Homo sapiens: one gene and its partner. The protein of the gene in region 2 interacts with the protein of the main gene of each other region in a pairwise test. Each region holds a gene or a part of one and is shown on either strand. Other genes may lie near its edges.

The links. Proteins that work in one complex are often made in the same cells at the same time.
Region 1: the proteins of KDM5B (region 2) and CTCF interact in binary tests that used the Homo sapiens proteins (3 or more experiments, as listed by UniProt).

What each region holds. Positions count from the first base shown.
Region 1 is NC_000016.10:67,635,526-67,639,677, forward strand, and holds the end of CTCF (transcriptional repressor CTCF), read left to right. Parts: intron 1-1,164; coding exon 1,165-1,326; intron 1,327-2,162; coding exon 2,163-2,347; 3' UTR 2,348-3,652; downstream 3,653-4,152.
Region 2 is NC_000001.11:202,734,404-202,739,756, reverse strand, and holds part of KDM5B (lysine-specific demethylase 5B), read left to right. Parts: intron 1-3,364; coding exon 3,365-3,544; intron 3,545-4,169; coding exon 4,170-4,328; intron 4,329-5,353. UniProt on the Homo sapiens protein: Histone demethylase that demethylates 'Lys-4' of histone H3, thereby playing a central role in histone code. Does not demethylate histone H3 'Lys-9' or H3 'Lys-27'. Demethylates trimethylated, dimethylated and monomethylated H3 'Lys-4'.

The sequences.
Region 1 (4,152 bases), on a different chromosome or scaffold from region 2:
TGTGGCCCAGGCTGGAGTGCAGTGGCGGATCTCAGCTCACCGCAACCTCCGCCTCCCAGGTTCAAGTGATTCTTCTGCCTCAGCCTCCCGAGTAGCTGGGATTACAGGTATGCGCCACCACGCCCAGCTAATTTTATATTTTTAGTAGAGTCAGGGTTTCTCCATGTTGGACAGGCTGGTCTCAAACTCCCAACCTCAGGTGATACACCCACCTCAGCCTCCCAAAGTACTGGGATTACAGGTGTGAGCCACCACGCCCAGCTGCCAGTTTCTTATTTCTTGTAGAGATAAGGTCTCACTATGTTACCCAAGCTGGTCTTGAACTCCTGAACATGAGTGATCCTCCAACCTCAGCCTCCCAACGTGCTGGGATTACAAGTGTGAACCACCGTGCCCAGCCTTAAATTGATTTTTCTTAATAATTGGCTGAGCATGCTGGCTCACACCTGTAATCCCAGCACTTTGGGAGGCCGAAGCAGGCAGATTGCCTGAGGTCAGGAGTTTGAGACCAGCCTGGCCAACATGGCGAAACCCCATCTCTACAAAAAATACAAAGATTATCTGGATTGGCTGGGCACGTTGGCTCATGCCTGTAATCCCAGCACATTGGGAGGCCGAGGCAGGTGGATCACCTGAGGTCAGGAATTCAAGACCAGCCTGACCAATATGGTGAAACCCCATCTCTACTAAAAATACAAAAATCAGCCAGGTGTGGTGGCGTATGCCTGTAGTCACAGCTACTCAGGAGGCTGAGACAGGAGAATTAAACCCAGGTTGCAGAGGTTGCAGTGAGCTGAGATCGTGCCGCTGCATTCCAGCCTGGGCGACAGAGTGAGACTCTGTCTCAAAAAAAAAAAAAGAAGGAAAAAAAAATTACCTGGGCATGGTGGTGCGTGCCTGTAGTCCCGGCCACTCAGGAGGCTGAGCCACGAGAATTGCTTGAATCTGGGAGGCAGAGATTGCAGTGAGCCGAGATCGCGCCACTGCACTCCAGCCTGGGCAATAGAGTGAGACTGTCTCAAAAAAAAAAAAAGAAAGAAAGTGTATATATATATATATATATATTTATAAAACAAGACTTCAAATAATATATAATTGTTTTCTTTCATCTTCCACCACCCTTCTCCTTGCCCCACCACCTGTGCTTCCTGATTTCATGAAAAGAAAATGCTGAACCAGATCTGGACGACAATGAGGATGAGGAGGAGCCTGCCGTAGAAATTGAACCTGAGCCAGAGCCTCAGCCTGTGACCCCAGCCCCACCACCCGCCAAGAAGCGGAGAGGACGACCCCCTGGCAGAACCAACCAGCCCAAACAGAACCAGCGTAAGTTGTTCATCTCTGCTCTGGAGGCTGGCGTCTTCTCCGAGCATGTGGGGGAGCCAGATGGGTCCTTGTTCTTTGGGGATGTGGGAACTAAGCCATGAGAACAAGTTAAGGGCATGTCGAGAACAAACTCTCAGGAAATGGCTTTTTAGGAGTTTTTACTGAGGAACATCTGAGGAAGTCTTTAGAGGCCTGTTACATTTCAAGAAGAAGTCCAGAGTAGAAGGGTACTTGTGTTCTGCAAGATGGGTACTGTTAATGTGGGCGGGTTTTGAAAAACAACCAAAGTCACAGTCAGCTGGCAGAATGGATGCGGTAATGAATATAAAAGAGCCAAATCGTAAAGGTTGGAGAGGGAAAGCAGTTTCTGCACTGAGATTGCCCCTTCTAAGAAACTCAGGGTCAGGCGGTGGCTCATGCCTGTGATCCCAGCACTTTGGGGGGCCAAGGCGGGAGGATCACCTGAGGTCAGTAGTTCCATACCAGCCTGGTCAACATGGTGAAACCCCATCTCTGCTAAAAATACAAAAATTAGCCAGGCGTAGGGGTGGGCACCTGTAGTCCCATCTACTCAGGAGGCTGAGGCAGGAGAATTGCTTTAACCCGGGGGGCAGAGGTTGCAGTGAGCTGAGATCATGCCCGTGCACTCCAGCCTGGTCATAGAGCAAGACTCCGTCTCAAAAAATAAAATAAAAAATAAATTGACTGTCTCTGGACCGCTATCTAATAAGGCTGTCCTGCATTGCTGACATCCCGTTCGCTGTCAGTCTAAAAGACCCTTGTGATTCTTGGGGCTTTAATGGACCATTTGTTCTGTCTGTGCTCTTCTTTGCCAGCAACAGCTATCATTCAGGTTGAAGACCAGAATACAGGTGCAATTGAGAACATTATAGTTGAAGTAAAAAAAGAGCCAGATGCTGAGCCCGCAGAGGGAGAGGAAGAGGAGGCCCAGCCAGCTGCCACAGATGCCCCCAACGGAGACCTCACGCCCGAGATGATCCTCAGCATGATGGACCGGTGATGGCGGAGCCTTGTGCGTCGCCAGGACTTCTCTGGGCTGTGTTTAAACGGCCCGCATCTTAATTTTTCTCCCTTCTTTCTTTTTTTGGCTTTGGGAAAAGCATCATTTTACCAAACATACCGAGAACGAAAACTTCAAGGATGATGTTAGAAAAAAATGTGATTTAACTAGAACTTGCTGTCTGATGTTAGCAAATCATGGAATGTTCTGAGTCCCTGAGGGTTTACTGTGAAGTGCTGAGGACAGTGTTGACAACTAACTCGTTTTCCTAGATGGAAACGGAGACATTGACCCCTCCCTCCATGTGGTAAACCACTCCAGAATGGCCACCAGGCTTCCCAGAGTTCTATGGTCTTCTTCCCAAGAGAGTTTTTAATTGTAAATGCATACTTGGGAAGGACTTAGAGTTTTAAACTGTTTTTTGCTTTTGCTTTTCCCTGACTCCCTTTGCTTGGAGTCAGCTGCACACCAGTAGTATGGCATGCTACGATCAGGTTCTGTCCTGAAAGCTTTGCCTCTTTCTTGGCAAAGTTTCTGGTATGGTCAAGCTTGTAAATAACTTTTTTTACATTTTAATCTTTTCCATTAATTAAGAGGTTGAAAAGAAGTGCAGTGTAAGAAAACCCAGCATTTTAATTACTTGCAAATTAAGTTACCACAGACTCTGTAGTGTGTAAATGTTGACAAGGAATTGGATCACAATCATGTAGCAGAATGGCACCCAGACCACTGCCCACCAGTGACGGACATGCACGTGGCAGATCATGATTTCCAGCCCACGGAGCCAGCATTTGAACCTTGTATAATTAACTTTCAGTTATGATTTCCCATCGACATTTTCTTTGCCCTGTTTGTAGCTGATTGTTGTGTTTTATAAATCTTCTGTTAAGGCAGAAGGGTGATTATGAGTGGTTCACAGCAGCCCTTATAAGCTGGGCCAGAAAATTTCACTAGGTCAGTAATTTAAACCTTGGATCTTCAAAAAATAAAATAATGTGAAGCAAAACCAACTAAAAAGTGATTCTTGCACATGAACTGTCACATGTTTAAAAATGTGTTTTTTAGAGAGCCTCAGTCTTACTGATTTCAAACACTTTTTTCTTCTGTGTATTGCTTTTAAGAGAGCCATCAGTTAGCTATCAGACTCTAGGTTGATGCATTTTGTACTTAGCTGTACTGTGTGATATTTTTCATTATTTTAGGACGCCAACATGAGACCTGTAATAAAATATGTAATGGGGTTGAAAGCTGGGGAGGAGGATCTACTGCTGTACAGCTAATAAATCATAACGGATTAACAAGTGCTCCAAAGACTCCATCTTGCGTGATTCCTGCCTGCTTGAGGGAGGCTGGGGGGCTGCATACATGGTTCCAGGCTGTGCAGGCTGCTGCCTTTCACAGGCAACCTCTGTTCCCTGGGATGGTACTTTCTCTAGCAGATGGGACGATATGATCTTGGCGGGTGACTGGATATTGAGCGCATCCTGCTGTAACTGTTTTTTTGTTTTGTTTTGTTTTGTTTTGTTTTGTTTGAGATGGAGTCTCGCTCTGTTGCCCAGGCTGGAGTGCAGTGGCGCAATCTCAGCTCACTGCAACCTCCACCTCCCAGGTTCACGCCATTCTCCTGCCTCAACCTCCCGAGTAGCTGGGACTACAGGCGCCTGCCACCATGCCTGGCCAATTTTTTGTATTTTTAGTAGAGACTGGGTTTCACTGTGTTAGCCAGGATGGTCTCGATCTCCTGACCTTGTAATCCGCCTGCCTAGGCCTCCCAAAGTGCTGGGATTACAGGCGTGAGCCACCAC
Region 2 (5,353 bases):
TCCACTCAGGGTTAAATGGATTAAGGGCGGTGCAAGATGTGCTTTGTTTAACAGATGCTTGAAGGCAGCATGCTCATTAAGAATCATCACCACTCCCTAATCTCAAGTACCCAGGGACACAAACACTGCCGAAGGCCGCAGGGTCCTCTGCCTAGGAAAACCAGAGACCTTTGTTCACTTGTTTATCTGCTGACGTTCCCTCCACTATTGTCCTATGACCCTGCCAACTCCCCCTCTGCGAGAAACACCCAAGAATGATCAATAAAAAATAAATAAATAAATAAAAATAAAAATAAAAAAGGCAAAAAAAAAAAAGAGCAATATTGGAAAGTTGTGAAGAATAATACGTTGGATCTTGCTGCACAGTTTCAGTATTTTAGGGGTTGACCAGAAGACTAATTCTATTCATACTTATTTGGATGTACTTACCAGCTATTATCCTGACCAGTTGTCTCAAATATTTAAAGCTTAGACAGTGTCACCAACTTTTTCTGGGAGCTGGGGAGTCTTTCATAACAAACTTGAGTACTTGACTGCAGATTGAAGCAAAAGAGCTAACAATGAAGTAGTGAGAGAAAGTAGTTTTCTACTCTTTGATAAGTATGATTACCTCTTGTTGGCTTGTCCACAACTTTGAAGTTCAGACAATCAGTAATAGCAAATTCAGTGAATCTAGTTATATGACTAAATGCCCAGCTAAGCCCCAAGGCCCAGAATTTTCATGAAGTAGTGACTTAAAAGTACCCTCCCAACCCTACAAAAGAAATAAAACCTACCCAGTTCCAAAGTAATTATCCAAAGTATCCAAAGTCATTTCCACCAAGTATTTGTGGTTTTATGCTAGATGTTATACTTATTGACCTGTATATAAGTTTAAAAAAAGAATTAAATTCACTTGTAGCATTGTTAAGGTACAAAAAGAATTCATTCTTTAATATGATTTTCCCAGTTTTCAGACGACTGGCTGAATGACTTAATTTGAAACGTGTTTGATGGGGGATGTCTTCCCTTATCTCTTATCATCATAAACCAATAGGTGTTACTGACCTATTGAGAAAAAAAAAAGTCTCAAGTTCTATTTTGTTGAAGTCCTCAAATTCTAGAAATAAAATACGATCTGGCTTTCTGAATATTTGTGTAATTTTAAGTGGTGTTAATTGGCTAATTGCTAACAAGAAATACCAAACAGGACAATTCTAGACAAATGTTTGCATCTGTTCTTGTTAATAGGGAAAAGAAGATATATTGTTTGAGGAGATTACATAATTAAGGACTGACTCCAGCAAGCCAAAAACAAAAACAAAAGTATTTACTATGGACATAAACTTTGTTAATGAGAGTTTTAGATGCAGGCACTTGTCAATGATAGTTGGTATTGTAGTAATTAGTTTTAGTTATGGTCCTCCTTTTTACTCCATGATTGCTAGCAGCCAGAAGGTGAAGTCATGGCAGTAAGGAGAGGCTGACATATAAAATCAGAAAGCAAGGGCATGCTTCTGGATGAGTTTATTTCCTTCATATTTTATATGTATATGCTACTTACTATGTTTGTAACAGTGCCATTAAGGGCAAAAGGCAAGTTTTTTGCTTCATTCCTGAAAAAGTAGCCTACCTTTTTTTTGCATCATATATTTAAGGACTGCTACACATGACTAACAACAAGGAACTACTTCCTATTTAGTGGATTATTTAAATGTTATGCAGTATTCTGCTTTACACATAGGAAGCACTCGGATTTCTAAATTAAATATCATAGGAATAGCATTAATTTATGAGTCACATTCTTAAGTGTCCATCAGAACATTTATGCCCTAACAGATTTAATTCTGTAAGAATAAATATCAAAGGCAGCAAAATATCAACCTACCCAGTCTTCCCTAGTTGTCCCAAAAATGTCCCTTATGGCTGTTTGTCTAACCCAGAAACACATGTTGCACCTAATTGTCATCTCTTTAAGTTTCTTTTAATCTTGTAGCGTTTTCCTCCCCACCCCACTTTTTCTCATGTCACTGACTAGACAGTTATCCCATGGTATGCTCCACCTTCTGGATTTGTTTGATTGTTTCTTTGTGGAGTGTTCTGTTCTCTGTATTTCCTATAAATTGGAAGTTAGTTTTAAAGCCCTGGTGCATCCAAGTTAAACATTTTTTTAATATAATGCATTAAAATGTCAGGTAATACTGTATATTCTATATTGCATCACAACAGGAGATATATCTGGATGACCTACCATTAGTGATGCTAAGTTTTACATTGTATTGGAGCAACACCAATGCATTTCATCCTCCATAACCTTAATGCTTTTACTCTCCTAGTTTGGCTATCTCTTTCTAAAAATACAGTTCCCAGACCAGCAGTATTAGCATCGGCAACAGCAGCTTTACCTGGGAACTTGTTAGAAGTGCAAATTTATGGACCTTCCTCTGACCCACTGAATTAGAATATTTGGGGATAGGACTAAGGAAACTGTGTTTAAACAAGCCTTCCAGATGATTCTTATACATGGTAAAGTTAGAGAACCACTGGGCTGTCTCAACTTATATTTTAGTTTCCTGAATAATTTATATTGAGTTGCTTTAATTAATCATTGGTGAGTGGATTGGGGTAAAATATTGTTTTGTTGCCTTTTATTTGTGTAATTCAGTATGAAAGTCTTGAGTTACTACAAACCTTCATTTCTGTTGAAATTTTTTTCAAACTGTTAATAGGAACCAATGAGATGAATGAATTTAGAAGGGTATAAATAGAACAAAGGGACCACAGTATATGCCATGTTCACATTTGTATCCTTAGAGCCTAGCACAAACTAGGTTCTCTAGGCCCAGCACAGTGGCTCACTGTAATCCCAGCACTTTGGGAGGCCAAGGTGGGAGGATTGCTTGAGGCCAGGAGTTTGAGACCAGCCTGGCCAACATGGTGAAACACCATCTCTACTAAAAATATAAAAATTAGTTGGGCGTGGTGATGGGTGCCTGTAATCCCAGCTACCCGGGAGGCTGAGGCAGGAGAATTGCTTGAACCCAGGAGGTAGAGGTTGCAGTGAGCTGAGATTGCACCACTGCATTGCAGCCCAGGCAAGAGTGATACTCCGTCTTAAAAAAAGAAAAAAAAAACAACACTACCACCACCACCACCAACAAAAGACCCAAACTAGGTTCTCTGTTTGTGTAATGAAGGAACAAATGTCACTTCTACCCCCAATATCATTGGTCAGCTGGCAGGTTAGTCAGCGTTTGTGAATTTAGCATGTTGAGATCATGGAGTAATCTGAAGTACTCAATGGACCAATCTGAATTAAGCTTTTCCTGTTTTTCATAGAAGTGTTCTTTTCTCTAAACTGCTGTAATTTTTCTTGACTTATTAGGCTGGAGGACGTGTGCCAGTGTTAGACACACTCATAGAACTTGTTACACGAGGCCGATCTATCCCCGTACATCTGAATTCTTTGCCAAGACTGGAAACCCTAGTAGCTGAGGTTCAGGCTTGGAAAGAATGTGCTGTTAATACATTCTTGACTGAGAATTCTCCATATTCTCTCTTAGAGGTAAGTTTACAACCAGCTCATCTGCAAGACCTTAGATCTCCTAGTTTGGTAAAACATGCAGTTCATCACATACAAAGATGACATCACAGATTAATCTATATTCTGTGAGTTGTTCTTCCCGTAAAGCCAGGGAGACTCTTCTAATTTTCTGGTGAAGCAACCTTTAAATGTTTTCTTGGTTGATTTAGCATAACAGTATCTAAAGAAGAAAATTTTTTCCTATTGGGTGAAATTCCTCTGTGTTGAAATTGGACTCTTAAACTTGGCCGTGCTTCGCCCACCTGAATTTAGTAAGCCTGATAAATGATCTCCCCCATTTTTTAAAAGTGCTTTAACTGCACTTTTTGTATTTTCTGTAAACTTGCTTGTGCATCATGACTGGGATCAACCAGTATATATCACATTTTTAACTTGTTACTTAATTGAATAAGGAATCAGTCTATCTTTTATGAGTCTTCCTCCTCCTTTTGTAAAGGAGAGCCTCAGGGTTGCATGTTCCAAAGAAAATCTTCAATACTAAGAAATGCACATCCTTTTTACTGCTTAGGCTTTTATTTTGGGACTTCCTACATAATGCTTTATCTGAAATTTATTTTACCATTGGTTGTGCCTTGTCCCACATTAGGTGCTGTGTCCTCGATGTGATATTGGCCTTTTGGGATTGAAAAGGAAGCAGAGAAAGTTAAAGGAGCCCTTGCCAAATGGAAAGAAAAAAAGCACCAAATTAGAGAGTCTGAGTGACCTGGAGAGAGCTTTAACTGAAAGCAAGGAGACTGCTTCAGCTGTATGTAGGGTTTTTTTCTTCTCCTTTCTATGTTATTGGGAAGAATAATTTCTAACCCTTTCTGTTTTATAGGAATTTGGAGAAGGCAAGTAGAGTAACTTGAAAGCGTTCAGTTTTACTAAAAAGACTTTTTGAAAATTGTCAAGTGTTAAGAGTTTTGAATGGTAAGATGCATAGAGGTGGGAAAGATTCAGGGTAGGCTTCCCAGTCTCAGGGTCTTGCAGGCACAGAAACAGTCTTGTTTAGTGCCTGTGGGTTGATCCAGGAATGCTAACTAAAGATATTGAGACTAATATTAATAGATGTATGAAAATGCAATGCTAATTTATTAGTTTATAGTTAAGAAGTACATTTAAAAGTTTACTGGATACTTTGATACTCATCTGGAATACCTTACATCTCTGACCTGCATTTAGTAAATACTGTTGATTCAAAGATGATAGTTTAAAGAAGATGAGGCAATGTATAACTAATGTTACACATTAAGCACCTTATCGGGATAAAAAAGGGATAGCTATGTGATGCTTTTAATGGCACAAAGCATTGCCCGTTCTAGAGTGGGAATGTATACCTGCTACTGGGACTAGATTGAATGGGTTCATCTGTGGATCTGGACACCTTCTCCCATTGATTTCTTTGTAGCTGCCAGACCTCTTGTGATAGACATGGGTTGCCTTGATTTATTTAGGTATTTTGACACAGATGTTCTTAGTGTATATTCGTATATTCAGTCAGGTTCTAGACAGAATTCTGCCATCAGAGGTCCTCCATTCCATCTGTGGTTTGTTTTTATAAAGACTAACTGAAAGTTACAGTCCCCCTCTCCTGAGGTGTATATATGTTGGTTTGAAACTTTATATGCAGTATCTTTTGTAGATTTTAGTCTGTCCATCTGTCTGTAGACCCCTGGTTTTAAGAATTCTCCCTACGTATTATCTGTTAATTTATGGTAGAACTCAAAGGTTAGTCATTTGCTTTCCATCTCTAAGCTGTCAGAAGTTACCTTGTTATCATATAACCCACAC